Homo sapiens: one gene and its partners. The protein of the gene in region 2 interacts with the protein of the main gene of each other region in a pairwise test. Each region holds a gene or a part of one and is shown on either strand. Other genes may lie near its edges.

Region 1 (3,500 bases), on a different chromosome or scaffold from region 2:
TTCTAGCTTTTTTCTCTTGTACAGTGCTTCCCACAGCTGGAATCAACACATGCTTAATGCCACTGTTTGCTGTCTTTCCCTCTAAATGGGAAGCCCCCTGAGGACCAGTACCTCATTTGTGGTGTTCACTGTGGTGCCCCCAATGCCTGGCTTCTAGTGGGTGCTGGACAGATGTCTCTAGAACAATGGAATGCATTGGTTTGAGGACAGCGCAGTTAACTCACAGCCCTGAGTGGGGAGCAGGGCCAGAATGTGGGGCTGGATGGCATCCCAGTTCCTCCTGCGTTCAGGCCTCACTGGGTGGTTCCATTATGTACTTCACTGAGCTGTGACCTGCCCAAACACCCAGCCCCCACACCCGTCCATTTTCCCACCCAGAGCCTGGGAGGAACGGTTTTTGGATTATTTCACATTTCTGGATTATCCATGAGACATCTCCCCGCCAGTGAGAAGGATCAAGAGTTTGACATTTTAAACCCTAAGCAGTTTCTCCCTGGCCTGCTTCAGATCTGAGGCTCTGCTGGTTGCAATGAGACGCATGGGGAATGGAAGGCCATTTTAATCTTGGCCTGGCTTCATCAGGAAGGAAAAGATGCTGCCAAAAAAAAAAAAAAAGTTTGCTTCATTGTCTCTGCCATGCAGAGCTGCGAGAGCCTAAGGGATTATCAAAGTAAATTTCCTTGAAAAGATGGGGAAACTGAGGCCCAGAGAGGGGCAAAAGCTTGGTCAAGGGCATGTGGGAAGTTGGTGGCCAATCTGGGAATGGTCCTCCCGGAGGCCTCCGGACTCCTGCATGCTGCCCTTTGTCACCTTCAGGCACCAGGGGAGCTGGGGTCTGGCAGAGAGGGGGCAACAAGTTTCCACTGACATGACTTCAGGACCCTGAGTCACCCTGGCCTTGAATGGCCTCCCAGAGCACGGATGGGACTTTCCAGGAGCCCAGCTACTCCTCCAGGAAGAGAAACTCCCAGGAAGCTTCAGTGGCAGCAGAGGTGAAGGGTGAGGGACGCAGGCATGCCCCCAGTCTGCCCCATCACCAACCACCACATCTGGGCCAATTTTGTGACAGATCTGTTGTCCAAAAGTGGGGCCAGTGGCGGCTGTATTTCGGGAGCAGGCTGTTCTTCAAGAAGATGGCTCCTTCAACCTTGTTCCCTTTGATCATTTTGGGGGCATTTTCTGTCTTTTATTTTCCTTTTTTAAAACACCAAATCTTGAGAATACTAAAACTGACTCCAACTAATGAGGTCACAGTACCTGATAAAAACAGTATCAAAACATTTAACACTCTTTAACTGAACTCTCAGAAAAGTCTTTGGCTTCAGGAAAGGGACTGGCTTTTCTAGGGTCAAAATACCTTTGCCTGAAGATAGCCTCACTGGCTGCAGGTTTGCAGGGACAGTGGGACCCCAGCACCCCTTCTCCACTTCTGGGTCCCTACCCCACATGCTCCTGGCCACACCTAGCCTATCTCAGACCAAAGATGTTGGAAAATAGCCTTTGGGGGTACCTTGGGAGGCCAAGAGAGGACATTTTGGACCATCCTGTGAAGCCCTTGCAGAGTGTGTGACCACGCCACACTGGCCACTCTTGGCCTGGCCCTCACCAGGCTGCCTCTTAGAATCAGTGAAGCTCCCAGGGAAATGGGGGTGCCAGCAGGGCTGGTCCTCTGGATAGGCCCTGGGTAGACGACCGTCCAACCTGCTTCTCCCTTCACCTGTCTCACACAGGGCGATACAAATGCCCACCCTTATCAGCGTATTTCCTGGGAAATACTCACTTCCTGCCCAAGACATAGCATGAACAAATAATTGAAAGCTTAATAAACCAAACTACAGGGCCCCATCCAGTGTGTAGTCCTCTGGCCATTTCAATTCACAAGACCCCCCCGAACGTTCAAGCCCCCTGCTGAGTTCCCAGCCCAAGCACCCCATCTCCTCCTGAGACTGTCCGCAACAGCGAATCCTGAATCCCTACACCCTGCTCTCAGTCCCCAGCCTTGCCCTTAAATCCTGCATTTGCTTCCTGCACTCCATACCTCTGTCCTTGCCTAAGCTCTGATGTCCTCTTCCCACCCCCAGGCCTCTGCCCACTGCGCCCACATCCCCAGACTCACCCAGGAACAAAACCTCGCGGTCCAGTCGGCACTTCAGTTGGCACTACAGGGATGTGACGGTGAATGTGTCCTCGGGGTGAGGTTCCGCCATGGGCCCCAGGAAGCCGCTCTTGGGGCCCCCACCCAGGCCAGGATGCGCCTGGGGCATAAAGCCTGGGTACCTGTAGGCGGTGTCCTGCAGGGGCAGCAGCGAGTCCCTCGGCACGGGGGACAGGGTCAAGTCACTAAGGAGTGGGCAGCCATAGCCAGCAGCGGCTGCAGCAGGGCCACGGGGTGGGCCAGGGGGCCGGGCCATTTCCAGTGGCTCCTTGTCGGCCTTGGGCGTGGCTGGTGGGCTAGCCAGGTGAGGGGCACTGAGGCACGCGGCCTCCGTCCTGCCCAGGAAGTCAGCCAGCAGCCCTGTACCCACCTTGCCTTCATAGGGCGGGCTGCGGGCAGCTGAGCCTGGAGGGTACCAATAGGCTGTGCCCTTGCAGCTGGGGGAATCGTAGTGGGGCTGGCCCAGCGGCAGGTCCCGGCAGCTCAGGTGGGCCTGGGCTGCAGCTGCGTGGCCCAGGCTGGCCCCCTGGAGTCCATGCTTGAGGGGCTCGCAGGCAGCCAGCTTTGTGGGCGGTGGCCGCAGCTCTTCCTTGAAGCCCAGTGTAGGCGAGCAGGTGGGCGAGTATGCCTTCTGCAGGCCGGCGTCAAACACCGTGGGTGGGTGGGCCAGCGGTGGGAAATGCTTGCCATCAAGCTCGGGAGCACCCAGGCTGGGCGAGTCGCAGTGGAAGCCTTGGCCAAAGGTGCCATCGGAAGGCGTGGACGGGTTCATGGAGTAGGGTCCTATGAAGTCACAGGGGTCTCGCTCTCCCACGCCGAAGGCCCTCGACTGTGAGGGCAGTGGTGACATGCTGCTGTCCCCGCTATAGTAGTCCAGGCCGAGGTCAGGACTGTCCTGGAACAGTGGGTTGACTGGCTGTGGCTTGGGGATGAACTTGGCTTTGGCCGCTGCGCCACCCCGCTCCTTCTTGGCTGAGCAGGCCCCACCGCCCCGTCCACCTCGCGGCTGCCGGGGCCCAGTGCTCCGTTTGGATGGGTAGCCTGAGGCAGCGGCAGAGGCGGATGTCGGGAAGCCCAGATGTGAGGCCTCGAACAGGTCCACCTTCTTCCGCCGTCCACGGCCCGGCTTGGAGCTACTCTGAAAGAGGACACTCTGGTTCCAGTTGTAGCCGGGGGCAGATGATGCCTCGTTCCAGTCCATCATCAGTTTCTCCAGGCTGGACAGGCTCGACTGGCCCTCACTACTTGAGGCCTCGCTGTTGGCACGCCGAAACCCCCCGCCACCAACCGGCTGATTGAACTGGGTGCTGTCGGAGGATGACTCAGAGAAGGTCTCCGACACAGC
Region 2 (3,500 bases):
AGGGATGGGGCTGGGTGGCAGGTAGTAGTGGGGATGGGCCCTGAGTGTGGGGTAAGAAATGTGTCGTTAATTTGGGAGGCAATAGGGAAGATACTTCAGCAGGAAGAGGTATAAGAGCAGCTCTGGAAAAAAGAATACTCCAGAAATGAAGAGGATGGGTGGCAGAGAGGAAAGAGAGCCTTGTGCTGCAGCCTGGGTGGGAGATCGGGGGCCTGTGATACGGGGACAGGAAAGGGCGATGGGAAAGTGGCGAGGGAGGAGGACTGCAGTGCAGCTGACCAGGTGTGAGGTGCCAGGGAGGGGCCTGGGTGGCCAGGGACCACACTACTGTCCACAGAGGGTCCCAGGAGGAGCTGCTGCTGGAAGGAGGCTGGTGGTCCCTTGGGAAAAGCCGATGTGTGATGTGGGAGCAGCGGGGCAGGTGGTTCTCTGGAGGGTGCTGTTCAGAGGCGCGGGCTTGGGAGAGTGTGGCTAGCCTGACCCTGAAGCTGGGGGTCGGTGGGGTCCCCGAGGGAGAGCGCTACAGAGGTCGGGGAGAGGCCTGGGCAAGGGTGGAAGAAGAACTGGGAAGGCGGCCATGGGGTCCAGAGGGAAGGCAGCGCCTCAGTGACTGCCATCAGTGCAGGGAGCTGGGGCAGGGAAAGTGAGCTGAGCCACTAACTAGGCCACTGGTGTCACTGGTGGGGACAGGACGTGGACTGAAGTCTGGTGAAGTGAGAAGGGGGAGGAGGCAGGGGCAGAAGGATGGGGAGAGGGCAGACTTAGGGTCTAGGCCCCCTGGCTGCAAAGGGAGAGGGTGGATGGCAGGCCCTAGAGGAGGGTGAGGAGGAGCAGTGGCTGCTCAGGAGCTGAAGGGAGACAGACCACAGGTGTGGCATGTAATGGAGCACCACAGCCCAAGCAGAGGTGAGGTGAGTCATGGAGAGAAAGGAGTGGAGAAGGTGCAGTGGAGTGGGGGGGATAGAGGTGGTGCAGAGAGGGAGGTCCCGGAGCTGGCACTGCCAGCCCGTGTCTGTGTGGGCAGGAGCCCCAGGGAGGTTTGCAGTAGTAGCTTCAAGAGGGGAGGGCTCTCTGGTCTGATCCCGCAGCAGGTCTGGTCTTTCAGACCCGTCCCTATATCATCAGCCTGACTGCAGGAGCAGTGGCCGGCATTCCTAGGGCCCCTGGGGGCTGCGTCCCACCCTCCGGGCACCCTGATACCTTGGTAAGCTTTCTCACGCTTCTTCTTCTCGGTGTCGATGTACTGCTCAGACGCCGCCTTGATCTTCTGCACCCAGGCGGTCCTACGGGAGAAGCAGGGGCAGCCGTTGGCCGCATCCCACCCTCACAGGTCAGCGTGGAGCCCCAGAGCTCTGCACATGTTCTTCAGTCTTTTGCTAACCTCAACTTTCACAAGTTTCCTATCAAAGACCTGATATTAGTCAACTGAAAGATGCTTATGCTAATGGAGTATGAGAGCTGGTAGTGACCCTTCTTGGCTGACCACAAAATGCCAGGCACTCGCAAGGCGCTGGGACCTGGAGACAGATGATGCATTGGCCCCACGGATGATACCTGTCACGAGGGGTTCTAGCGCACACAGAGGAGCAGCAGCACCCCCCGGGTTGGCGCCGCGGAGGCACTGTTGGAGCTGCAGCCTGAAGGAAGCTGGGAACAGCGGGGATGGCACCCACACAAGGGCGCCTGAGGGGCGAAAGTCTGCAGGTGGAGGGACGAGGGCTGAGGCCTGTGGCCCAAGGAGGCCTCGGAAACCAGCAAAGCACAGTGGGCTGTCGCCTGCGGGCAGCCCCTGCAGGGACTGTAGCAGGGCCTCAGGTGCTGATCTGCCATTTGGGAAGGCTGCTGAGTGGTGTGGGGAGAGACTAGAAGCCGGGAAGCATGTTAGGAGGCAGCTGCAGTGACCAAGGCCTACCATGGGACTGGAGCAGAGGGGATGTGTTAAGAGAGGTTCAGGATACAGAATTAGTGGGGCTTAAGCACGGCTGGAGATGGGTTTATGGCAGAGGGAGACGTCCAGGCCTTCTCCCAGAGTTCAAGGCAGGCCACACATGGTCAGGACTGACCTCTCATTAATGTTGTCTGTTCGGAGGGTGTAGACCCGATCAATGTGGGAAATGTGGAAGACAGGCTCATCGCTGGAAGGGTCTGTGGGCAGTTTCACCAAGACTTCATTCAGGAAAATGGGCTGAAAGAATTAGGGCCAAAACACAGGCTGTGAGATGGGCTAGAACACTCCACCCGCCTATGTCCAGAGAGAGTTCTGTTTGTTCTGAAGAGCCTTGTTGAGAAGGAGAAAGGGGTCTAGCGTCTAAGGTCTTCTACACAGAACAAATGAAACCTCCATTTGTAAGAACAATGAAGCCTCCATTTCTGGAAAAGTCATTATCGAGGTGGGTCAGGTGTTGGGACTGGGTGGGGACAGGAGCTCCAAGCGCCCATGACGGCTGGTGCAAAAGGCTCTCTGCTAGCAACGCTGGTGCTGTGCTGGGGCTCGGCTTACAGAGACCCAATGCTGAATGCACACAGTGGTGAGCCCAGGTGTCACGCTGGCCAGGAGGAAGCCAGAATCTCAGCTGGAATCTGGCTGATGGCCTGTGGCAGGTGGGGAGTGCCCAGCTGCATGGGGCCCTTCCCGTGGGAAGCAGCAAAGGAAGCACGAGCGATCTGGAACCAGGTGAGGAGGGTCCCGTAAGGCCAGCTCAGGGTCTGCCAGGAAGGCCTTAAGATAGAGGCAACACCTCATTAGGCCCCTGATGCTACCCCCAGACGCGTGATACTCACCGTTTTATACATTTTGAATTGAGCATTGGACTTCGAGCTGAAAAGTTTCTCAGAGCCAGAGGAAACAGCAAACTGCTTGACCATGTAGGTAAGAAGCAGGAAGTCATTGAAGAGGAATCCGTGCAGTTCCTTGTTGCTCTTGGTCTTGTATAATTTCCCACTGTGTAAGAGCTTCCGGGGCCCCAGGCAGTTGGTGAGAGAGTTGAAAATAAGTTGCTTAAAGAGAAAGAAAATTTCACTTTTTAAATCCCGGCACAAACCATCCAGTGCCCCTGAGAGGCCAGTGCCCTGGGCCTGAGGATACTGTGGTGGAGTTTTCTAGGTGGGAATGTGGCTAGAATCATTCACTTTGCATGAAAGATCCTTAAATACATTACTCTTCAGAGTCCAAACTGGCCCAGTGAAAATCATTACTTCTAGCCACAGAACACTGATTCTACCAGCTGAATTCAAAGAACTCAAAACAAAAAATCCCAGTGTTCTCTCCTTAGGAGAAAGGAAGATGACAATCCAAGAAGGAATGCCCTTCATGCCTGCAATCCCAGCACTGTTGGGAGACAGAGGCGGGAGGATCACTTGACGCCAGGAGTTCAAGACCAGCCTGGCCAACATGGTGAAACCCCAGCTCTACTAAAAATACGAAAATTAGCTGGGCATCGTAGCAGATGCCTGTAGTCCCAGCTACTTGGGAGATGGAGGCCAGAGAATCGCTCCAACCC
Region 3 (3,500 bases), on a different chromosome or scaffold from region 2:
TCTCTCTCCTATATTTTTATCCAGGTAACATCTGGTTTCAGTGAACTGGAGGAAAACACAAGGAGACAGTGGCAGGGGAAGAGCAGCCTACCGTGGCTCTGTAAGTGTGTGGGATTTACATGCTGACACTAATTGTATTTTACTTCTCTAATCCTTCCTCCTTTTCCTCCTCCTCTCTGTTGTCCTGGGTGTCTGCAGCTGTGCTTGTCAGGTCCCCAAACTGGCTAGCTCCCCACCTCCTCAGGGCACAGGGCGTCTTCCTGATTTGCTGTGCCCTCGATGTGGAAGCTCAGGTCGGGGTGTAGTTACTGATGGTTATGATGATGACCATCGCAGTATTCTAACATAGCTTCAGGCAGGATTTCACAATGAAAACCACCCCACAAAACCCTGAATAGATCTAATGAAACTCTTTCCAAAATTCAAACGATCGTCACGTATTTTTGAATTAAAGAAAGGTGGACTTCTTTTAAAATTCTCTGTAGACTTCCCTTTCCTCTCTTTCCCATCCTATGATCCCTCAGACAAAAGAGGAAGCCCATAATAACTGGTTGCCTTTCCATAGGCGTGCTTTTCAAAGCACTTGGATATCTAGTGTCTTAAGATAACCCGGTGAGGTCGGTAGCATTTGTTTCTTTTCATTTTCCCTACAGGAGCAATTCGGCACAGAGATGCCGAATAATTTGCACAGGTTCCTATCTTAATAGACAATTCAGAGTAGTGCCAAGACTAGAACCAGGAGAAATGCCCACACAAGCATGCCAGGTACTACTTCTAAGCCTCCATCATTGACAGAAATGGTACCTGCAGGTACTGGCAGGAGCGTTCTTGCTGACACGACTCGGACTTCACCATGGCCTGGTCCATGTTCACCGAGGCCTTCTGGTAAACCTCCCGGGCCCGGCTCACGGTGAGCGTGGAGGACCAGGCGCTCTTCTTCAGCAGCGGGGTGTCCAGGCTGACCGGCAGGTTGGCGCAGGTGGAGCACTTGACGTCGTTGTTGCTCCGGGAGGCCTTCACCGCCTGCTCGCTGATGGTGTTGTAGGCCTCCAGGAAGTACTGTGAGGCCGAGCGGTCGGGGCACCTGCCCATGGTCATCACGCCCGAGGGGGCGTGGTAGATGCACATGTCACCATCCAGGTTGTCGTCCGAGCTCCACCAGCCCGGGGAGGTGCTGGGCCGGGCCTTGGGCTCCGCGCGCCGCTCCTTGCTCTTGCTGCGTTTGCCATAGCGCGCCGCCTGCGCCTCGTCAGGGCTGGCCTTGCCCCCGTTGACGCTGCCCTTGGACGGCCCCTCCAGGGAGTGCGACTTGGTGAAGAGCTTCTGGACCGAGTGCACCAGGTGGCGGATGCGGCCGGGGCTGTCGCTGCGGTGCTCCACGGCCGTGCGCTTGTACTGCAGGGTGTGATAGCCATCGCGGCTGAGTGGCAGCTGCCGCTCGAACTGGTCCAGCAGGTTGGCGGGGATGCGGTTCGCCTTGGTGGCCAGGGTGCGGGGCACCAGGGCACACTCGTCCTTCAGCTCTTGCTGCGAGGTGTAGTGCCTGCGGGGGAAGGTGCTGCTGGCCAGCGGGTCGCTGAAGGGGCCCACGCACTCAGCCTGGAAGGAGTTCCGCTGGGTGTAGTATGGGTGGTCTGCGGGGTGGTGCTCCACTGGGCTCAGCAGGTAGGGCTTGCGGTCGGAGTGGTGCGACAGCGAGTCACAGGCCGAGTCGCAGGTGACCCCGTGGTGATGGCTGCGGCTGCCTGATAGCCCTTTCATGGCGGACCGGAAGCAGCCGCCAGGGTCATGGACACCCGGAAGTCAGGCTCCAGACCCGTCTTGGGCAGGGATCTGGGGGAATGAAGAAAAGGGCAAAGTCGTTAACATTTCTCTTGGAAATTAGGTATTGCACTTTACAGGGTCTTGCTCTGTTGCCCAGGCTAGAGTGCACAGGCGCCATCTCTGCTTCCTGCAGCCTCCACATCCTGGGCTCAAGCCATCCTTCCACACCAGCCTCCCGAGTAGCTAGGACTACAGGCAGGCCCCACCACGCTTGGCTAATTTTTTGTAGAGAGGAGGTCTCACTATATTGCCCAGGCTTGGTCTCGAACTCCTGGGCTCAAGCTGTCCTCCCACTTTGGCCTCCCTTAAGTGCTGGGATTACAGGCGTGAGCAACCCTGCAGGCCTGGTATTGATCTCTTGAGGGTGCCATCTGCGACCGTGTTTTTTTGGCAGAACTTAATCAGTGTCCCCTAAAACAGCTTGAACGCATTATTGGAAGAGCTCTGTCACCTCTGTGGGGCAGGAAAGCTGACTCCAAAGCCTGTAGGGAGAGAAGGTGGAGGTAAAGCTAGAAAACTAGAAAAAGGAGGCCGGGCGCGGTGGCTCACGCCTGTAATCCCAGCACTTTGGGGGGCCAAGGAGGGCGGATCACCTGAGGTCAGGAGTTTGAGACCAGCCTGGCCAACATGGTGAAACCCTGTCTCTACTAAAAATACAAAAATTAGCTGGGCGTGGTGGTGGGTGCCTGTAATCCCAGCTATTCGGGAGGCTGAGGCAGGAGAATTGCTTGAACCTGGGAGGCGGAGCTTGCAGTGAGCAGAGATGGCACCACTGCACTCCAGCCTGGGGGACAGAGCCAGACTCCATCTCAGAAAAAAAAAAAAAAAAAAAAAAAGAAAAAGAAAACTAGGAAAAGAAAACTATATTTAAAAAAAAACCAAATTGTTTTTAAATTATTTGAAACAATAACTCTCCTTCCCTCTATGACCCCAATAACTGGATGTATCGTTCTCTTGCTTCTTGGGTCTTATTCTTTTTTTTCTTTTTCTTTTCTTTTTCTTTTTTTTGTGAGATGGAGTTTTTGCTCTGTTGCCCAGGCTGCAGTGCAATGGCACGATCTCGGCTCACTGCAACCTCTCTCTCCCGGGTTCAAGTGATTCCCCTGCCCCAGCCTTCAGAGTAGCTGGGATTACAGGTGCCTGCCACCATGGCTGGCTAATTTTTGTATTTATGAGGTTTCACCATGTTGGTCAGGCTAGTCTCTACATGTTAATTGTTAAAGATAGAACTGGAGAGGGGCTCAGTTCCTCTAGGAAACCTCTGCTGGCTCTCCTAGCAGAGAGAATTAGTTCCTCTCTTGTGTTTCCACCACATCTGAAACTCACTCCCCAGAACCTACAGAGTTGCTTGCTTCAGGATCTCTCTTCCGGCTTATGTTCCTTGCCTCCCAGTCTATTAGTCTCATTATGTACCCCGACCTAGTGTCGATCCAGCCATGTAAGCACACAGTAATAGCACTCCATAAGTGTGAATGAAAATGTGAGTTAAAAAACAAGATGAGCCGGGCGCGGTGGCTCACTCCTGTAATCCCAGCACTTTGGGAGGCCGAGGCAGGTGGATCACGAGGTCAGGAGATCGAGACCATCCTGGCTAACACGGTGAAACCCCGTCTCTTCTAAAAATACAAAAAATTAGCCAGGCATGGTGGCAGGCGCCTGTAGTCCCAGCTACTCGG
Region 4 (3,500 bases), on a different chromosome or scaffold from region 2:
AATATTTATTGAATATGAAGTCCTGAGAGCAGCATCTGGCATGCAGCAGATGTCTAGCAAATGTTTATTTAATTAATAATTGAAGGCTGGGTGTGGCGGCTCATGCCTGTAATCCCAGCACTTTGAGAGGACAAGGCAGGTAGATTGTTTGAGCCCAGAAGTTTGAGACAAACCTGGGCAACATAGTGAGGACCCCCCCCATCTCTACAAAAAACATAAAAATTAGCTAGGCATGGTGGTGCGCACCTGTAGTCTCAGCTACTTGGGAGGCTGAGGTGGGAGGATCACTTGAGCCTGAGAGGTTGCAGCTGCAGAGAGCCATGATTGTGCCAGTGCACTCCAGCCTGGGAGACAGAGCAAGACCCTGTCTGAAATATATATATATATATATATATTTTTTTTTAAAGTCTGACTTGTGGCATCCTGGGGTCCCTGGCTCTTTTTCTGAAGAAAAGTTGTCTCCCCACATTCCATGCCTAAGTTCTTGCCCACAGAAGGATGGGTGGGGAGGTAGGAACTTTCCCCCAGCTCTAAGGGAGAGTTCTTATGCCTTGCTCATAACACCAAGGTACCCTTCTTATACTCACCGCACGACCTTCACCCCATTCCGAAGAACTTCCATATCCACAGAGAATCCACCATTGGCATGGGCCACAAGGTTGAGATCAGAGAATTCGGCCTGGGAAGGAGAAAAAAACTGGTGATTCACCTACATCACACAAAAATGGCCACTCAGTTTGCAGTATGGACAACTGACCCCCAGGTCCAAATGTCCCAACTTACCTGTTCTACTTTAATGTCAATTTCTCCATGGATCTTTTTCCCTTTGAAGTATTTTGCCCTGGAGAGGAAAAACAACACATCTGTCAATGATGAAATCTCAGAAGGGAAGACAAAACACAGGCCCTTGACCCTTTTGCCCCTTCAATGCTACTAAAGAAACCACAAAGTGCCTTATAATTATTGAAATATTTTGAAAAAATCAAGAGTGCTTTGTGAATAATGTCTGTTGTAATCCTCATGGAGTTGCAAAAATATTAAAGGACATTGCAAACTGTAAAATGTGGCCTTACACTGCAGAGAGCAGGTATTTCCCAAAATTTAGTCTGCTCATCACATTGTCATTGTAAATTTTTTAAAAAAACTTCACAAAATTAGCAGCACTATGTAAATTAGAACATACTTTGAAATTGCATGGAGACCGGTAAACAGCAAAGAACCTTAGAAAACACCTATCTGGCCAGGTACGGTGGCTTACGCCTGTAATCTCAGCACTTTGGGAGGCTGGAGGTAGGAGGATTGCTTCAGGCCAAGGGTTGGAGACCACCCTGGACAATATAGAGAGACCCCCATCTCTACAAAAAAAATTGAAAAAAAAAAAAAAAAAACAAAAGCCGAGGGCTGTGGCTCACGTCTATAATCCCACAACTTTGAGAGGCCAAGGCGGGTGGATCACCTGAGGTCAAGAGTTCGAGACCAGCCTGACCAACATGGTGAAACCCCTTCTCTACTAAAATACAAAATTAGCCAGGTGTAGTGGTGCATGCCTGTATTCCCAGCTACTTGGGAGGCTGAGGCAGGAGAATCACTTGGACCCAGGAGGCGGAAGTTGCAGTGAGCCAAAATGGTGCTATTACACTCCAGCCTGGGCAACAAGAGCGAGACTCCATCTCCAAAAAACCCAAAAAACAAAAACTAGCCAGGCATAGTGGTGCATGCCTGTAGTCCCAGCTACTGGGGAGGCTGAGGCAGGAGAATGGCTTGAGCCCAGGAGGTCGAGGCTGTAGTGAGCCGTGATTGCACCACTGCACTCCAGCTTGGGGAACAGAGCAAGACCTAGGCAAAAAAGAGAAAGAAATAAAGAGAAAGGAAGGAAGGAAGGAAGGAAGGAAGGAAGGAAGGAAGGAAGGAAGGAAGGAAGGAAGGAAGGAAGGGGAAGGAAGGAAGGGGAAGGAAGGAAGGAAGGAGAGAAAGAAACTACATTTCTCTGAAGCGTGCCTGTTTTTGTGTATTTTTTAGTGCCTGTGTATATGTCAGTGCCTGTGTCTGGCTGTGTGGCCTGAAGCATCTCTCTGCTCTCTGGCCCTTTCGCAAGGAGGAGCACATTCACCATGTGTGGTTGTGTGCTGTGAGAAACACAATGGCCATAGGTGGGCAGCTGCATCCGATAAGGAGGAGTGGATTGAGTGGTGCAGGCTGGGTGGCTCTAGAGAAGCCAGTGTAGCTGGCAATGATGGGGGGCAGGGAGGAATGCAGCTGAGGAGGAGAGGGAGCAACAGGAGGGAGGGGGAGTGGGAGCAGCAGTAGGAACATCACGAACTGCTATGTCATTGTCCCCGGGCCCGTCCCCAGCTGGGCTTGGTTTCCGGTGGCCTCCTCCCCCAGGCTCAAGATTTCTAGCCAACAGGCTGCTTGCTCCAGGGATGGAAGCTCATCCTCAATCAGGTTTATCATGGAAGGGGGATGAGGGGGAGAGACACTTTCAGGGCTACTGGTCACTGACACACATACAATCAGGGTCTTGGACAGACACACACACACACACACACACACACACACACACACGGCACAAATGGACCCTGGTGACTTGACTGACATATGCAAGAGACCCCAAGTACAGCTACTTCTTTTTCCTTGCTCTCTCTCTGACACACACACACACACACACACACACACACACACCATCGCTGACACTATCCCCTCAGAAGTGTTGAGAGAGAATCTCTCTCAGCCCTGCACATTTTTCATCTATAAACTGATGAGTGGGGATGATGAGGGTGTATCACTGTTTCTAAAACTTTTCTGACCATAAGTGTAGTTGGATACTGTGGTGGTCTGCTCAGGCCTCCTCTTCAGGGACAATGTACCTTGAATGGCAGCTACTGACAGCTCATGGCTGTGTCCCCACTGGGAATTGTCTTGTCACAGGGAACTGCCTTGTCCAAGGTTACACCTACTTCATGAGGGCATCCCCATGGTCTGGTCTATGAAGGGAAAGAAAGGCCAGCCTCCTTGCCTCAATCTGGGCTGACTCTGAAGGACCCTCCCAGCCCCAGGGCTCCCCCTAAGAGCAGCGGAGGCCCCTAAGGCAACTACATCTTGAGCCAGCCTCTTCCTCTGCTCAACCCAACCCTCCTCACAAGTGTTGATCCCAATGGCACACTCCAGTAAGCCTCCTGCATGCAAATCTCCACCTCAAAGTCTTTTTCCAGGGAACCCAACCTAAAACAGTGGGCCATGGAAGTCAAACTACAAGGGTGGTCTAATGCAATTCTGGAGCTGGGTTACCCAGCAGCCAGATGGCAGTGAGGACCCATCAGTAGTGGGAGGTGGGGCATAGATAGCCTCCGATATGCTGTAGCAACGCAAAGTGCTCTGCAGCAGGTCCGGGCTGTGGTGCAAGCAGGATGTGACTTAGGCCATATGATCCAGCAGATCCTATGACACTGGAGGTGTCAGTAGTAGGAAAAGATGCTGTGTGGAATTTCTTCTCCCAGGTG
Region 5 (3,500 bases), on a different chromosome or scaffold from region 2:
GGACAAAGAACCACAGAATGAGAAAGATGAGGGGTCCATCAGGGGTAGGTAGGACCCAGGAAATCACACCTTTAGACCAGAAGCAACAGCAATCAGAAATGCAAGGGTTGGCCGGGCACAGTGGCTCATGCCTGTTAACCCCAGCACTTTGGGAGACCGAGGCAGGCGGATCACCTGTGAGACCAGCCTGGCCAACACAGTGAAATCCCGTCTCTACTAAAAATACAAAAATTAGATGGGCGTGGTGGCAGGCTTCTGTAGTCCTAGTTACTCAGGAGGCTGAGGCAGGAAAATTGCTTGAATCTGGGAGGCGGAGGTTGCAGTGAGCCAAGATCATGCCATTGTACTCCATCCTGGGCGACAAGAGCAAAACTCCATCTCAAAAAAAAAAAAAGGTTGAGTCAGAATCTGCATTTCAGCAAGGCGGGCACTCGTGTGCAACGGGGAGCATAAGGACCTCTGTTTAGGTAGTTCATGTTTAGGAGGGCTGCGAACAGGTGGGTTCTGGCATAAGACCTTGATGTCAAGGAGATCACTGGGTGGCTGTCCAGGCCAGACAAAATGTGGCCTGGCCTGTGAGGGAGATGGTGGAAGTGTGGAAGGGGTAAGAAGGACAGGGCTTGGTGACACATTTCCATGGAGGTGAAAGAGGAAGAGATATAACAGAGGGCCACTTGAGCAGCCAGGTGACATCACCAACTGAGGCAGGAAGTCTCCAGGAGGACAGGAAGCTGGGTGCGTGTGAAACCCCCGAGGGCACCCAGCGGTGGCGGCCTCAGGCGGTGGAGCACATGGCAGCAAGGATGGGGCAGAGGGACGCTGGGGGGATGGTGATGGTTTGCTTCCTGGTGACTTTCTGTCTTAAGAGTGACAGCTGTGGTGTGGGGAGTTGCTACAGAATGATGTCAGGAGGTCTTCCCTTGAGAAAAGACCCATCAGTGCATTCTGTTGGGGTGGTTTCTGTTTTGTTTTAAATCATGGTTCACTTCGTAGGACTGATGTCTGCACTGGGCTGGGTCTTTTGGTTCTGCAGATTGAAAAGTTACAAACCCAGCTGGAGAGAGAAAAGCAGAGCAACCAAGATCTGGAGACCCTCAGTGAGGAGCTGATCAGAGAGAAGGAGCAGCTGCAGAGTGACATGGAGACCCTGAAGGCTGACAAAGCCAGGCAGGTAGGTGCCTCCACCACTAACGCCTCTCCTAGAACCCCTGCCTGCAAGACGGAGAGCCGGGATTACAGCCATTCCTGGTACTGTATTGTGGATGCATGGATTATCCGTTACCTAGCTTAGCCACAGCTTAAATCAGCAATTCTCAATTTCCCAACTGGCGGTGGGAAAAGGTGGGGTGAATTTTGCCTCCCAAGGGACATTTGGCAATGTCTCAAGACATTTTTGATTGTCGTGACCCCGGGGAAGAGAGGGGGTGGTGCTCCTGGCATGGAGTGGGTGGAGGCCAAGGATGCTGCTACATATTCTGCAGTGCGCAGGTCAGGAACACTCCATCTGCAAATGTTCTTAGTGCCCCAGCTGAGAACCCTGGCAAATCCGTGTGGTTTTATTTGCCTCACACGGCGGGCAGTCCAGGGCTGATGTAGTGGCTCAGGGATGCCATCAGGAACCAGGCCTCTTGCCTACAGCTCTGCCAGCCTTAGCAGTGGCTGCTGCACATCCCTAAGGTACAAGCAGGAGAAAGGTGGAGGGCTTAGCATCACAGGGAAACCCTCCCAAGGATGCTCCGTAGACGTCACGTTGGCCAGAACTAACGTGTGGCTACCTCTGCCTGCAAAGAATGCCAGGGCACCAAGTATTTTAGTTTTTTGTTTTTGTTTATGTTTTCTTTTGTTTAATAGAGATGGGATCTCACAGTGTTGCCCAGGCCGGTCTCGAACTCCTGGGCTCAAGTGATCCTCCCGTCTTAGCTTCCCAAAGTGTTGGGATTACAGGCATGAGCCACCATCACTGGCCCCAAGTATTTTAGCTTTTTGGCATCTGTAGTAGAGGAATAAAAAGCCCAGAGAAGATGGTTAGAATGGTGCATGGTAAACAGACGGACAGGGCCCTGCCCAGATGTTGCTCACAGCCAGGAAGGCACACTTCCAGGTGACAGGCAAGATGATCTCAGGAGGGTGCTACTGAGAGAATAGGGTGCTGAGGGAGAGAATACTGGGATACACGGCTACCTTAGAATCATCATGCCAGGATGTTTTGGGGAACTGACCCCAAGTATAAGAAAGAGCCAGTGAGGCTGATAGCCAGAGGAAAGTACTCCAGGCAGAGGGATCAGCATGTGCAAAGTGTTCACAGTCAGCTGGGCTAGGAGCAGTGAGCAGGAGGTGGAGAGTAGTGTAAGCAGAGGCTGCAGAGGTGGGCAGGGCCCGGCTACCAGAGACCAAGAGAAACCGCTGAAACTTAAGTGAGGGAGAGAGATGTATTTACATTTTAAAATCATCCTGGCTGCTCTGAGTGTATTCTGACTTGAACCATCTAAGTGGTGGTGTCTGTGCCCACTCACCTGTGTCTGTCAAGCCTCTGGGGAACGCACAGGCAGTGTCTGAGCACAGGTAGGACAGCCGTTCAAGGCCTTCTCTCTCCCATCCCCAGTGTGAGCCCATGTCACTGAAATAGGTTCCTGCAGCAGCCTGGGTTGTGCCTGTTGTGTTTTCCCGTAGATCAAGGACCTTGAGCAGGAAAAGGACCACCTCAACCGAGCCATGTGGTCGCTGCGGGAGAGGTCGCAGGTCAGCAGTGAGGCCCGCATGAAAGACGTGGAGAAGGAGAACAAAGCCCTCCACCAGACGGTGACGGAGGCCAATGGCAAGCTCAGCCAGTTGGAGTTTGAGAAGCGGCAGCTGCACAGGGACTTGGAGCAGGCCAAGGAGAAGGGGGAGCGGGCAGAGAAGCTGGAGAGGGAGCTACAGCGACTCCAGGAGGAGAACGGGAGGCTGGCCAGGAAGGTGACCTCCCTGGAGACAGCCACCGAGAAAGTCGAGGCCCTGGAGCATGAGAGCCAGGGCCTGCAGCTGGAGAACCGGACTCTGAGGAAGTCTCTGGACACCTTGCAGAACGTGTCCCTGCAGCTTGAGGGCCTGGAGCGTGACAACAAGCAGCTGGACGCAGAGAACCTGGAGCTGCGCAGGCTGGTGGAGACCATGCGCTTCACCAGCACCAAGCTGGCACAGATGGAGAGGGAGAACCAGCAGCTGGAGCGTGAGAAGGAGGAGCTGAGGAAGAACGTGGATCTGCTCAAGGCGCTGGGCAAGAAGTCAGAGCGCCTGGAGCTCAGCTACCAGAGCGTGAGCGCTGAGAACCTCCGGCTGCAGCAGAGCCTGGAGAGCAGCAGCCACAAGACGCAGACCTTGGAGAGTGAGCTGGGCGAGCTGGAGGCTGAGCGCCAGGCGCTGCGGCGGGACCTGGAGGCCCTCCGGCTGGCCAATGCACAGTTGGAGGGGGCCGAGAAGGACAGGAAGGCCCTGGAGCAGGAGGTGGCCCAGCTCGAGAA
Region 6 (2,676 bases), on a different chromosome or scaffold from region 2:
CACACACCCCTCAGGAGTAATATCATGGCCTGCCTCATAGATCATATGCATAATTTCTTTCATCCCTCTGAATACAGTGCCATCACCTCTCTTGGATTGCCTGATTTCCAGTCCTAATCAGCTGACGCAGCAGTCAGGCAAATAAGATTTCTTTAATAAAAGATAGATAGTGATCTATAATGTATAATAATTTTTTTCTTACCGTTTTTTGCCCTGACACTTAAAACTATTTCAATCAGCGCTTAAAGTGTCAGACAGGGGAAGGCAAGAATTTCAGAAAACATTGGGCACAGGAGGGCAATATATGCTGATTTAGATTCTCCCTCTCAGTGTCAAAGGATAATTAGTGAGAAAGACAACAAATGCCTTCCTCGCAGTTGCAATCAGTTAAAACCAGGTAACAAATTTATACATCAATATGTTTGTAAAGATAGATACATATGCATGAATACATGAAACACGCAAAAATAATTTAGTATTCAATCTCAGATACACGAATATACTTAAGAAAGAGAAGTTTTATTAGGGCAATTTCACTTTATTTTTCCATACAGCAAAGTCAACTACTGCAGTAATAATAAAATAAGCATAAAACAAATTGCAGCCCAAGACAAAATACATAATTTTAAGCAACTACAAGCAGAAAGTAAGTTGTGATTACATAATAGTAAAACCAAGCACATTTGTCCTTTCAGCAGATGAAAGTGGTAGGGTTGCTGATAAGTGCAACATTTTTAACCAGCTGGAGTGAAGGCTGGATACACTAATTCTTTTAAACAAGTGCCCATTATCACATTTTGCATTTTTGAGTGCTTCTGAGTTGAAAATTAAAACCATGAAATTTGAACTGCGTTTTATTTTTCACCTGCTGAAAGAACAGGATCCTACAGCAATTAAAAAACAATCACATAACAACTATAGCTACAGTGTGCTGTTTGGTTTGCCTGTTTATGATTTAAATTTTGTGAAAGTCAATACTTGTTTTGAAGATTTTTTTGTGAACAATAAACCACTGAAATTGGCAGAAACTGATCTGAATAATATATGTTCTTAGTATAGTTCTTTCTCTCTTTTTTTGTTGAAGTTTTAAACATGCAGTAGTTTTGAAAAATGTAAGGAATATCTGATCCATGATTTCACCTTAATGGTAGAAGTACCTGCTATTTTTGGTAATGATCTTCAGGCAGATTTGGCCCCATGGAGTTTTTGTCAGTCATGAGGGTTTGAAAGGATGGCGTATCTTTCCAGCTGAAAAAATCCTGGCAAACTACAAGCTGTCCACAAGAAAGCAAAGCAACATGTTTGAAGGGGTATGGAGTGCTAACTCTGTGCCACTTTTGCAAGCAATTTTGCTCAGTCTGTCATTGTATTAGCCTTAACAAAACTCCTTGTAATTATAGACGTTTTTATTCAAAATAAGATCTTACTATTATACAGGTTTCTCTCTTTTGACTATATACAGAAGTGCAAAAAGTCAACCTTCTCCCTAGACGTTCCAACATGCTAAATTGCAGCATAATCAACCCTCAAGAGTTTGCACACACGCTATAATTTTCATTACGTAAACTTTGAGTATTTGGATTATCAACAAAAAGTCCCTTGTTCTATTTATTGATTATGCAGCTTATTTATAACAAGGCCTGATACTCAGGGATTTCAAAAATATTAAACAATATTTTAACATTTGAAATGGATACAGTAGAAAATAAATTTTATTCTAATATCTAGGATCTAGATCTTCTTATAATAACTAATTACAAACAAAATAAATCATCAAAATATTACTCAATTGTCTGCCAGGATTGTTGCGATAGCAACAACTTAACTTCTTACTTAGCAATGATTATATATTTATAAGATATCCATATAAAAGATCTTTGTTCTTTTAATGAAAACTAGACAAGAACTAACAATGACTGACATTCTTACACTGTAATATTAAATCAGTAAAATATAAATCATTTAGTTAACAATACGAATATTCATGTGACACTACATGTAATTCAAAACTGAGTATGTTATGAAGGAAAAACTACTTTTTTTTGTATTTTGAAAAATTCATTGGTAAAATCTAATAAAACAAGTCTATAAACTGAAATGGTATTCAATTGTTAATAGAAAATGAAAATCTAATAAATGTAGGAAATGAAAAACTACATTTTAACAAGAAAAATAAGTAATATTCTATAATGTAACTAACTACAATAACATGTGAAGTCACCATTACTTTCTTAACACGATTGAAATTACATTGGTATGGGTTCCAACCCGTAATGTAATAATCTAAGGCTTTAATAGATGTACAGTACAATCAGTAAAATCAACACATCAGTCTTATATTAGAAAGCATCTCTCTCAAGCATAAAAACTTGCAGTAAACTTGGAAGTATGGAAAGTTCTATAACTGAACTTTCACTTCTCCCATTCCATACTATAACTACCAGTGACCTGGCCCCTACTTCAGCAATTTTTAGAACTGCTGAACAGAGCAAAAATATCCTTTACTAGCTGCAACATCCAAACCTCAAAAAAAGGAATTCCTTTGGATGATTCCATTCTTAAAAACTGAATGCACATCTATTTTTTTTTTAATTTTGTAAAAGGCTTTCTAAGGCTATAAGCAGTTAATCTGAACAAAACAAAACAAAACAAAAATCACATATAAAATTCACCCAT
Region 7 (3,500 bases), on a different chromosome or scaffold from region 2:
AAACACTCAATATCACCCACAGAGTCCTTTCCCACACAGTCTAACAGAATCTATTTTTATATTCCATTGAGATTTGAAGCAAAGAATAGAGCCCCAGTAAAAAGAGGAAATAATTTCTGTGCTGTACCTGGGGTTTTCTCACTTCCTTAATTTAAAATAATCTTCCAACAAGTCCAAAAAGTCAGATCAATAGTCCAGTCTTCTATGCACAGGTATATATCACTGCAAACGTTTTGGAACTAAACTGAATCAGTTAAAAAGGTTCTCGGGAATTTGCCATCTTCTTAGAAAACTTATAATGGTATATTACAGTGCTGGAGGCTGAAAGAAACCTTCCAAATTATCTGGTCCAACCCCATCATTTTACAGATGAAGAACTTGGAAAATAAACTGGCTGATCCAACACACTGAAGACTCCAATTAAAACATCTGCTTAATTTTAAGGTGGCTGACAAATTTGGAGAGTGGGGTGGGAAATAAAACCTCCAAAACATATTTTAGTAGTAATTTTGATCAAGGGGCTTATTAAATGAAGAAAGAGTAAAGATTGTGATCTCAGTAGCACCCCATCCCAACATCTAGAAACCTGAAAGATTAAAAACTGCCAGAGTGAACGCACCGAATCTATGAGCAGGGGCAAAGGAAGAGAACGCAGGAGCTCTACCCTGAAGTCTGATGGCCTAAGCACCAAATACTGGCCTAATTTTATATCTAACTGATGGGTGTCCAGGAGCTGCCCTGATGTGATGGTGCCTCCATTTCCGGAGAAGTGGAGATTAGAGAAAATACTTCCCATGCGACAGAGGTACATGACCATTGACCTGACAACAGAAAGGTGGCTTAGACCCCTTGTTTGTACTCAGTGGTACCTGGACCAGCAGCATCAGCATCACCTGTGAGCTTGTTAGAAATGCAGAATCTGGCTGGGTGCGGTGGCTCACGCCTGTAATCCCAACACTTTGTGAGGCTGAGGCAGGCAGATCACTTGAGGTCAGGAGTTCAAGACCAGCCTGGCCAACATGGTGAAACCCCATCACTACTAAAAATACAAAAATCAGCCAGGCATGGTGGTGCATGCCTGTAATTCCATCTACTTGGGAGGCTGAGGCAGGAGAATTGCTCGAACCCAGGGAGGCAGAGGTAGCAGTGAGCCGAGATTGCGCCACTGTATTCCAGCCTGGGTGACAGAGCGAGACTCTATCTCAAAAAGAAAAAAAAAAGAAAAAAGAAAAAAAAAGAAATGCAGGATCTTGGCCCCACCCAAGGAGTCAGTATATGCATATTTACAAGATCCCCAGGTCCTTCTGTGCACATTAAAATTTGAGAAGCATTGTTTAGCTAGCATAGCAGCAAAAGAAAGTATAATTGACTACCTGTAATCTAAGTTTCAAGAATAAAATAACCTCCTCTACTCTATTACCCACTCCACTCTCTTTGATCTTTAAGCTTTACTTTAAACTTTACATGGTCTAAAATTTAGCCTAAATTTTAAATGGGCTTAGTGAATATCTCATTAAATAGTCCTTTTTATCAAAAGGTATCTCAAAGTTAAGAAAAATAGACATATAGCCATGTAAATATTCTGGGACTTTTACCATTTTAAAGGGTTACATAAATTATAAAGTGAGGTATTTTTCATGCTATTTACTGCTGGGGTCTGAGTAGGAACATGACCAGTATTTCTTCAGTTGGGAGTCAAAAACCTCAGGTATACCAGGTGAAGGAGGAAAATTGAATTCAGAAGAGAAATGTGTTCCTGGTGAAAAGGGGAACTTCTTGTAAGGGAATGTTATGATCAAAAGGCTGTAAAGGTCACATGGCCCAACCCTGGCCCCAAAGCTAAATCCCTTTACAGCACGTCTGCAGTATCTACTCTCTTACTCCTGGAGATGTGGCACTTACCACCTTCAAAGGCAACCCATTCCACCTTCACACAGCTCTAATAATTAGGAAGTTTTTCCTAAAATTTGTCTCCCTGTAGTTTCAATAGCCCTACAATCAATAACTCCACAATTATTGTCTCTACTATTAATTCATCCCCATTATCAATTTTCCATTGCATTTCTTTTTTTTTTTTTTTTTTGAGACAGGGTGTCACTCTGTTGATCCCCAGGCTGGAATGCAGTGGCTCAGTCACAGCTCACTGCAGCCTCAACCTCCAAGGCTCAGGTGATCCTCCCACCTCAGCCTCCCAAGTAGCTAGGACAACAGGTACACACCACCATGCCCAGCTAATTTTTGTATTTTTTGTAGAGACAGGGTTTTGCCATGTTGTCCAGACAGGTCTCAAACTTCAAAGCAGAAATCCTTCTGCTCCAGCCTCCCAAAGTGCTGGGATTACAGGCATAAGCCACTATGCCCAGCCAGTTGTTTTTTTTTTTTTTTTTTTTTTTTTTTGAGATGGAGTCTTGATCTGTCACTCAGGCTGGAGTGCAGTGGTGCCATCTCGGCTCACTGCAAGCTCCGCCTCCCAGGTTCACGCCATTCTCCTGCCTCAGCCTCCCGAGTAGCTGGGACTACAGGCGCCCGCCACCTCGCCCGACTAATTTTTTGTATTTTTAGTAGAGACAGGGTTTCACCGTGTTAGCCAGGATGGTCTCAAACTCCTGACCTCGTGATCCGCCCGCCTCGGCCTCCCAAAGGGCTGGGATTACAGGCGTGAGCCACCGCTCCCGGCCATGCCCAGCCAATTTCTTATTGGGATTCTTTTTTTTAACAGAGAAAGTCAAAGAAACAAGTTTCATGTACTTATTTCTCATGGGACTGGGCAGCTGGTGTAGTAACGTATATGAAAATATTAGCTTTTGCTTTTATTTTGAGGTACCTTAGGAAAACCTCATGTATGCAAGAGGAGTATTTTTTAAAAAGATGGGTTATCACAAGTTATAGGGAATGTACCTAAGGACACAATTATCCCAGAAATGTAGTGTAGGGAGAGTACTGTCTTTAGATACTGTTCTAGCCCTAAGCTTCCTGGGAGTCAAAGCAGGTATGAAATGTGGCAAGAAGGTCATACTTCAAAAATATTTAAGATTTTCTGGCCTAGGTGAATCACAGATTTTTAGCCTTGGGAAGTGTCTTAGATCAAGTCTAAATCTGCCACTTACAGAAAAGGAAACTGGAACTCAAAGAGGCAAAATGACTTGCTCAGTACTAGGCATCTGGTTAGCAGCAGAGCCGGGTAATGCAGTGTCCCTAACCCTGGTCAATGCTCTTTTTTCTACACTGCCAGACTCTGAGTATCAGGTTTGTTAAGAAAGCTTGTCCAGCAAAAAAAATCAGGAATATGGCCTCAGAGTCAAGGCCAACCAAGGGCCATGGCTATGGAATACCCAAAAAGCAAACCCAAGTCATCCTAGCACCGACAGAGATCTTGAATCCCCAAATTCACAAACCTAATACCAGATAAGAAAGTTATATTGAGGCTATAAGGCTTCCTTCCTCCTCTTCTCTTTCTTACAATTCCATTTGTCCCTATATCCATTGATTCTGAACTGCAA

The links.
Region 1: the proteins of ITSN2 (region 2) and AHDC1 interact in a two-hybrid assay, tested with the Homo sapiens proteins (one large-scale study listed by BioGRID).
Region 3: the proteins of ITSN2 (region 2) and DLGAP1 interact in a two-hybrid assay, tested with the Homo sapiens proteins (one large-scale study listed by BioGRID).
Region 4: the proteins of ITSN2 (region 2) and SYN1 interact in a two-hybrid assay, tested with the Homo sapiens proteins (one large-scale study listed by BioGRID).
Region 5: the proteins of ITSN2 (region 2) and CCDC88C interact in a two-hybrid assay, tested with the Homo sapiens proteins (one large-scale study listed by BioGRID).
Region 6: the proteins of ITSN2 (region 2) and MBNL1 interact in a two-hybrid assay, tested with the Homo sapiens proteins (one large-scale study listed by BioGRID).
Region 7: the proteins of ITSN2 (region 2) and PIK3AP1 interact in a two-hybrid assay, tested with the Homo sapiens proteins (one large-scale study listed by BioGRID).

What each region holds. Positions count from the first base shown.
Region 1 is NC_000001.11:27,545,145-27,548,644, forward strand, and holds part of AHDC1 (transcription factor Gibbin), read right to left. Parts: coding exon 2,160-3,500; 3' UTR 2,117-2,159; intron 178-2,116; exon of another isoform or gene 112-177; intron 1-111. UniProt on the Homo sapiens protein: Transcription factor required for the proper patterning of the epidermis, which plays a key role in early epithelial morphogenesis. Directly binds promoter and enhancer regions and acts by maintaining local enhancer-promoter chromatin architecture.
Region 2 is NC_000002.12:24,207,037-24,210,536, forward strand, and holds part of ITSN2 (intersectin-2), read right to left. Parts: intron 2,998-3,500; coding exon 2,782-2,997; intron 2,186-2,781; coding exon 2,064-2,185; intron 1,284-2,063; coding exon 1,201-1,283; intron 1-1,200.
Region 3 is NC_000018.10:3,878,308-3,881,807, forward strand, and holds part of DLGAP1 (disks large-associated protein 1), read right to left. Parts: intron 1,834-3,500; 5' UTR 1,762-1,833; coding exon 805-1,761; intron 101-804; exon of another isoform or gene 25-100; intron 1-24. UniProt on the Homo sapiens protein: Part of the postsynaptic scaffold in neuronal cells.
Region 4 is NC_000023.11:47,606,358-47,609,857, forward strand, and holds part of SYN1 (synapsin-1), read right to left. Parts: intron 842-3,500; coding exon 784-841; intron 680-783; coding exon 588-679; intron 1-587. UniProt on the Homo sapiens protein: Neuronal phosphoprotein that coats synaptic vesicles, and binds to the cytoskeleton. Acts as a regulator of synaptic vesicles trafficking, involved in the control of neurotransmitter release at the pre-synaptic terminal.
Region 5 is NC_000014.9:91,313,321-91,316,820, reverse strand, and holds part of CCDC88C (protein Daple), read left to right. Parts: intron 1-1,033; coding exon 1,034-1,171; intron 1,172-2,670; coding exon 2,671-3,500. UniProt on the Homo sapiens protein: Required for activation of guanine nucleotide-binding proteins (G-proteins) during non-canonical Wnt signaling. Binds to ligand-activated Wnt receptor FZD7, displacing DVL1 from the FZD7 receptor and leading to inhibition of canonical Wnt signaling.
Region 6 is NC_000003.12:152,463,605-152,466,280, reverse strand, and holds the end of MBNL1 (muscleblind-like protein 1), read right to left. Parts: 3' UTR 501-2,676; downstream 1-500. UniProt on the Homo sapiens protein: Mediates pre-mRNA alternative splicing regulation. Acts either as activator or repressor of splicing on specific pre-mRNA targets. Inhibits cardiac troponin-T (TNNT2) pre-mRNA exon inclusion but induces insulin receptor (IR) pre-mRNA exon inclusion in muscle.
Region 7 is NC_000010.11:96,703,515-96,707,014, forward strand, and holds part of PIK3AP1 (phosphoinositide 3-kinase adapter protein 1), read right to left. Parts: intron 1-3,500. UniProt on the Homo sapiens protein: Signaling adapter that contributes to B-cell development by linking B-cell receptor (BCR) signaling to the phosphoinositide 3-kinase (PI3K)-Akt signaling pathway.